2 linked regions of the Homo sapiens genome follow. The protein of the gene in region 1 purifies or fractionates together with the protein of each later gene. This does not show direct contact. Each region holds a gene or a part of one and is shown on either strand. Other genes may lie near its edges. The genes, in order: PLEK and RDX.

Region 1 (3,832 bases):
CTCTAGCAGGTGTGTAGAGGTATCTCATTGTGATTTGAATCTGCATTTTCCTGATAAATAATGATGTTGAACACTTTTTCATAAGCATTTGGATGTTTTCTTTACTAAAGTGCCTGCTCGATACTTTTTGCTCATTTAAAAATAGGATTATTTGTACTTTTCTTATTGATTTGCAGGAGTTCTTTGTATTCTAGATATGTTTCAGTTGTAAAACAGAAAGGCATTTTACTGGAATTATTTCATGTGTTGGCACAGTGTCTGATCTTGCTCATTTTTAAAAGGGGAAATAATCCAGTGTTCGTCTGGAATAGTTATTCTGCCCATGCAGAAAAGAGATAGGGTATTTTAATTTAGAAAATTATTTTAGTAACTAGAACAAAGGAAATGTTTGGACAAGCAAAGTGATAGTCCCACAAGTATTTATCTTTGCATAAATAGTCTTCCTTTTGGTCAACTGGACCTTTATATAGAGGCCCTTTGTATTTTGAGATAAGCAGCAGGGTCTCTTGGGAACTGGATGATAATTCTATTTTGTGGTAGTCATGACAGGGTGATATCATGGGTTAAAGAATAGACCTTTGCCAAATTCTTCCAAAATATAGACCAGAAATAGAGACTTCCCTGTTTTAATCAGAATGGTCAACTTATTGCTAAAGGGGCAGCTGGCATGAACCCAAACTGAAAACATTTTAAGTAAGGATTTTTTTAAGGGCTACATTAATGTGGATAGCCTCATTCTGGCATTATAGACCTTTTGCAAGTGATTTTCATACAACTTAGCCATGCCTGCACACAAGGCTGCTGTCTGAGTTTCTTTTTGACATTCATATTCAGATAAAATCTGATTAGCCCAAGAGATGGAAGCAACTGCAGGGTGCATGCCACCACTTATGACTGCTTTGTCTATGGGAGACACGGCTGTTGGATCACAACACTTTTCCACTGAGTCCAGCCTCAAGCATCCACTACTACTCAGTCTGAATTGACACTTGAGATAGATTCTACTTGCCATTCTTGAGTTGAACTGAACTCAATGGGCAGGTTTGGGAGCAGAAAACAAACCACATAAAGTCAGCCTGAAATGTACCAGGGGAGCTTATGGGTTGACTGTCACTGTATATACATTTTATCTTAATTAAAAAAAATTCCAGTAGAATGACAGTCCTCCTTTCCCCTGAAGGCATCCTTCCTGCGCAGCCTTGTGCAAATGTGGACCACCTGCCTCCACACTGGCCAAAGCTGAGTTACATATTGTCCTGCAGAGGTCTATAGGATCATTTTAGGAAATATTGTCACACTTATTGTGTCTATTCTTATGTTAATCATTTCATTATGTCTTATTTATTCAGTCTTATCTATTAATAATGTGATCTTATTTTTAATTTTTAATTTTTAAAATTTAAATTTTTGTGGGTGCATAGTAGGTATATGTATTTATAGGGTACATGAGATGTTTTGATACAGGCATGCAATGAGTAATAATAACACCATGGAGAATGGGGTATCCATCCCCACTAAGCATTTATCCTTTGTGTTACAAACAATCCAATTACGCTCTTTTAGTTATTTTAAAATATACAATTAAGTTGGCAATAGTCACACTGTTGTGCTATGAAATCATAGGTCTCATTTATTCTTTCTGTTTTCTTGTTTTTGGTACCCATTAACCATCCCCACCTCCCTGCAGTCCCCCACTTCCCTTCCTGGCCTCTGGTAACCATCCTTCTACTCTCTGTGTCCATGAGTTCAGTTGTTTTGATTTTTAGATCTCACAGATATGTGAGAACATGTGATGTCTGTCTTTCTGTGCCTGGCTCATTTCACTCAACATAATGATCTTCGGGTCCATCCATGTTGTTGCAAATGACAGGACCTTCTTTTTTATGGCAAAGTAGCCCTCCATTGTGTATATGTACTACACTTTCTTTATCCACTCATCTGTTGAGGGACACTTAGGTTGCTTCCAAATCTTGTCTATTGTGAACAGTGCTGCAACCAACATGGGAGTGCAGATATCTCATCCATATACCGATTTCCTTTCTTTACAGTATATACCCCCCAGTGAGATTGCTGGGTCAAATCGTAGTTCTGTTTTTAGTTTTTTGAGGAACCTCCAAACTGTTCTTCATAGTGTTTGTACTAATTTACATTCCCACCAACAGTGTACAAGTATTGCCTTTTCTCCACATCCTCAAAAACATTTCTTATTGCCTGTTTTTTGGTTAAAAGCCATTTTGACTGAGATGAGCTGTTATCTCATTGTAGTTTTGATTTGCATTTCTCTGATGATCAGTGATGTTGAGCACCTTTTCATATGCACACTTGCCATTTGTATGTCTGCCTTTGAGACATGTCTATTCAAATATTTTGACCATTTTTTGAATGGTTTATTAGATTTTTTTCCTCTAGAGTTGTCTGAGCTCCTGATATATTCTGGCTATCAATCCTTTGTCAGATGGGTAGTTTGCAAATATTTTCTGTCATTCTGTGGGTTGTCTCTTCACTTCGTTGCCTGTTTCCTTTGCTGTGCAAAAGCTTTTTACCTTGATGTGATCACATTTGCTTATTTTTGCTTTGGTTGTCTGTGCTTATAGGGTATTGCTCAAGAAATTTTTGGCCAGACCAATGTCTTGTAGATTTTCCCCAATATTTTCTTACAGTCATAATGTGATTTTAATTACCACCGTTCATTCCACAAATTATTGATTGAACACCTGACAATATGATGGTGAAGTAAGTTCTTGCCCCCCTGGAACATATAGTTGGGTGGCAATAGTTGACAGAGTGATTTTACACACTTTATATATAAAACATGTGTATACATATGTATTTAAAGATATATACACTGTATAATGTATATGTACATTATTCACATATAAGCATATGGCATGCATTATACACTTATATATACATATTTTATACATGATCTAAATCTAAACTATGCTTTAAGATGGAATTATTATCTCTCTCTTAGCAAACAAAAAGCCATGGCTCAGAAATATTAAACATTTTACCCAAAGACATGTACAACTAATAAGTGGTTGACATGAGGCTCAAATGTAGGTTCGAGTTTTGACCCCAAATCATAGCATACACTGAAGTATCCTAAATACTTCAAGCATCATTGGATGACATGTCATACAATAATGGAGGAGGCCTGCAAGTCTGAGGCAGGCCGGATTCTTCACAATCCCAAACCTTATTCCACCAGAAGAGAAACCAAAGGGAAGTGTGTTTCCTCACAAATACATTCATGCAGATCCTCAGGGCCTTCAGCTTTCCCATTCATTACTCCACATGGCAACTGGCTAAATATTTTTGACTCTTCCTCATTGGGATGATACTGATACCAGTTCATTGTCATTTTTCCAAGAATAGAGAGGATGAAAACTCAAAGCATGGAAGACATTCATACATGGCCATCTGTCAAGATACTTAATAATACAACCTCTCATTTGTAGAGCACATTCGAACTTATAAAATCTTATCCAAATTATTTCATTTCATATGTTCTAGAAATCTCTGAGGTAGTCATTCTTATCATTTTAGTGCTGGGAACTGAGCCTTAGAGAGGGCAAGTGGCTTACACAAGTGTGGGCAGTAAGAAAGTCATAGAACCAGCTGGGCGCGATGGCTCACACCTGTAATCCCAGCACTCTGGGAGGCTGAGGCAGAAGGAACACGAGATCAGGAGTTCAAGACCAGCCTGGCCAACACGGTGAAACCCCGTCTTTACTGAAAAAAATAACATAAATATTAGCTGGGTGTGGTTGTGCACACCTGTAATCCCAGCTACCTGGGAGGCTGAGGTGGGAGAATTGCTTGAACCTGA
Region 2 (3,832 bases), on another chromosome or scaffold:
TCCACCCGCTTCGGCCTCCCAAAGTGCTGGGATTATAGGCGTGAGTCACCATGCTCAGCCAAAATTCAATTATTAAATGTCACAGTGTTCCGCCCTTTAATTTTGTAGCAATAGTAGTCACCTTGGAAAAGGATAGAATTATGTAAGTTGTTCACCAAGAGAGTCAGGAATATGAGATATCTGATAGTCTGTTTATATTCTGGTTTTGAATGTTATTCTAACCTAAGATTCTTCATCTTAGATTACTGAATTGAGTAATCAGACTATTATGGTGGAATTTCATTTCATATAAGGATTACCTTTTGTTTTATAATCAGAATTACTTTAATTTTTTTTTTAAATGTTAAAGAATAGGAATGCTTTATCTAAACAAGTACAGCATTGATCTTTCAGTGTTAAGCCAGATTGCTGTTTGGTTGAGCAGCAGATGAAGTAATTGGCTTACATTTCATAACTCATGTGATTGAAAAAAATCTCTTAAACACTACAATAACACACAAGCACAGTTTATTTTAAATATGGGTGTGCTCTAACCTACTCTATTTAAAAAGAAGGAAGGTGGCTAAATGCTTTAGATAGGGTTGCTTGTGGTTGCTAGTGCAAATGCCTATTTCAAGATTTGTTCCTTAATTTTGTAGGTCAGTTGTTCCTTCAGAGTTGATATTCCATGGAGGACTAATTCAAGCCATGTTATCTTAAAATGAGACTTAGTCATAAAGTTAGAATACCATTTTTTTTTCATTTTCTGTTTAGAACAGAGAGGATATTTTCACAGTGATTGGCTTATTCCAGTATGGTATATCGGACACTTTTTCTCAGTATCTAAGTACAGTCTGGGGAGGAAATGAGTAATTAGGTTATTTGGTGATAACAAATCAAATAAAATAATTTAGTGATTCTGATACATTCTGATTTCTTGTATTGAAAAACCCAGATGAGCAATCTGTTCTTACTGTAGAAAAGTTTAGCTCTTGTGGTATAGATAATTAGCTCCACCAGATAGTATTGCTTCCCTTTGAAAAGAGCTAAATATACATAAACTTTTACATACCAGGTTTCTGACTTGGGCGGCTGGGTATTTGGTAATACCTTTTATCAAAATGAGTGGAAGAAAAAATACATTTGAGGGGGAAGATGAATTCAGTTTTGAACCTATTGAGTTTGAAATATGTGCAATATAACCAAGAGAGATATCTGGTATTTATTTGCATATGTGGGTGCAGACCTTTTAGAAACAGTCTTGGACTATAGATACAGTTTTGGGAGTAATCAGTGAATAGATGGTAATTAAACCATGAGAATGAAAGAGATCAACCTACCAAGTACATAAAAATGAGAAAAAGACCTAGGACAGATCTTGTTGGACCTCAGCTTTTGTCTTTGGGTTCTGCATTCACAGAGTCAACCAACCACAGATTGAAAATATGTGAAAAAAATAACACAGCAATGAAAAGGTACAAAATTTTAAAAATACAGGATAACAATACATAGCATTTGTAGTGTATTAGTGTATTATTATACTACATAGTAGTAATAATATAGTGTATTAGTATTATTAGCCTAGAGATGATTGAAAGTATACAAGAGGATGTGCATAGGTTATATGCAAATATTGCACCATTTTATATCAGGGACTTGAGCATCCACAGTTTTTGGTATCCAAGGGGAGTCCTGGAAGCAATCCTTTATGGATATGGAGGGACAACTGTACTGAGACACTGGCCACAGATTCAAGAATAATTCTATACTAGAAGATGGCTGGGCATGGTGGCACATGCTTGTAATCCCAGCTACTCGGGAATCTGAGACCTGAGAATCACTGGAACCCGGGAGGCGGAGGTTGCAGTGAGCCAAGATGGCGCCACTGCACTCCAGCCTGGGCGACAGAGCGAGACTCCATCTCAGAAAACAAGAATAATACCAGAAGAGTATTATATCATGGAAGCCAAGGTAAAAGAATACTTTGATGAAGAGAATGGTCAGCACTGCCAAATGGTACCAAGAGGTCAAATATGAGGAGAACTAAAGTATCTGTTGGAATAAGGAGCTTGGTAGTGACCTTAGAAGAGCAGTTTCCAGCCGGGTGTGGTGGCTCACACCTGTAATCCCAGCACTTTGGGAGGCCGAGGTGGGCGGATCACCTGAGGCTGGGAGTTCAAGACCAGGCTGACCAACATGGAGAAACCCCGTCTCTACTAAAAATACAAAATTAGCCGGGCGTGGTGGTGCATGCCTGTAATCCTAGCTACTGGAGAGGCTCAGGCAGGAGAATCGCTTGAACCCGGGAGGTGGAGTTTGCAGTGAGCCGAGATCATGCCATTGCACTCCAGCCTAGGCAACAAGAGCGAAACTCTGTCTAAAGAAAAAAAAAAAAAGAAGAACAGTTACCATAGAGTATTGGGTGTTTGAGCCAGATTATGGTAGACTGGGGGCAGTGGATGTCAGGTATGGAAATTGAGGTTAGTGTATAATGGACAGTCCATAAAAGAAAGTTGTCTCTGAAAAAGAAAAAAAAATAGGGGTTGGGAAAAATTGATTAATTCATTTATTCACTCTACAAATTTTCGAGGCCCTCTTTAGTACTGGCATTGGGCATATAATTATGGTAAGCAATTGACTGCACTGGGTTATGTCTCCAAGGCTGATTGCATGCCTCTCTGTGAGCCCAGAGGCCAGACAGCAAGAAAGACAAGAAACTGTGGAAACCTAAGCTCTCTCAGAAGGAAGATGAAACTCTTCTCCCCAAAAGCAAGAGCTTGGAAAAGATGCCTAGAGAAAGGAGCAGAGTATAATAAGAACATAACAGTATGTCTGAGACCCCTTTAAGGAATTTACTCTAAGTAGTAGGTAACTTATCCAGGGGGAGATTTTATCATTCCTTTATGCTGCCAAGAAATCCTTGGGTTTCATGCAAGATTTTTTATATAGTAAAACAGTAATATTTTAACACCACAGCTTCTGCTGTCAGTAAAGTAGGATCTGGTAAATAAAGGTGAATAATTATCATATGAGCCAAAGAGAATAGAAGTCACAAACTGTAGTGTGCATAGTAGGTAACTTATAATCATGTTGACTTTGCTGATTTGGTGTTAAAATAGTAGTAGTAGAATATAATGTTTGTATTTGGCTGGGCGTGGTAGCTCACGCCTGTAATCCCAGCACTTTGGGAGGTCGAGGCAGGTGGATCACTTGAGGTCAGGAGTTCAAGACCAACCTGGCCAACATGGCGAAACCCCGTCTCTACTAAAAATACCAAAAAAACACACAAAAAAGAAAAATTAGCCAGGCATTATGGCGCACGCCTGTAATCCCAGCTACGCGGGAGGCCGAGAGCATCGTGGCACACACCTATAATCCCAGCTACTTGGGAGGTTGAGACAGGAGAATCACTTGAACCCAGGAAGCAGAGGTTGCAGTGAACCGAGATTGTGCCACTGCACTCCAGCCTGGGCAACAGAGCGAGACTCCATCTCAAAAAAAAAAAAAAAAAAAAAAGAATGTATTTGCTCACATTTGAATTAAGAACACTGGAAGGATACAAAAACAAGTTATTTGGGGGGTATTGGACTGGAGTATGACTTTTCACTCTACTTTTTAATTGAAAGTATTACCTACCTAAAACAACAAAATTAGTAGCAAAAAAGTAAATACATAAAGGAAGAATTAGGGCCCAAGAATTCTGGTTTTCAGTCTGGTCTTTATCTATTAACAATGAGCCATTTTTTTATCTAATGTTTTATTCCTTTGAACTGTTTGGGTTCCTATAAGCTATCTTTGTAATCACTTTATGGAGCAAGTATTATTTCAAGGAATTTAAGGATCCTAGACACTT

What was found.
Region 2: the proteins of PLEK (region 1) and RDX purify together in Homo sapiens (co-immunoprecipitation; one study listed by IntAct). This does not show direct contact.

Annotation. Positions count from the first base shown.
Region 1 is NC_000002.12:68,375,229-68,379,060, forward strand, and holds part of PLEK (pleckstrin), read left to right. Parts: intron 1-3,832. UniProt on the Homo sapiens protein: Major protein kinase C substrate of platelets.
Region 2 is NC_000011.10:110,258,531-110,262,362, reverse strand, and holds part of RDX (radixin), read left to right. Parts: intron 1-3,832. UniProt on the Homo sapiens protein: Probably plays a crucial role in the binding of the barbed end of actin filaments to the plasma membrane.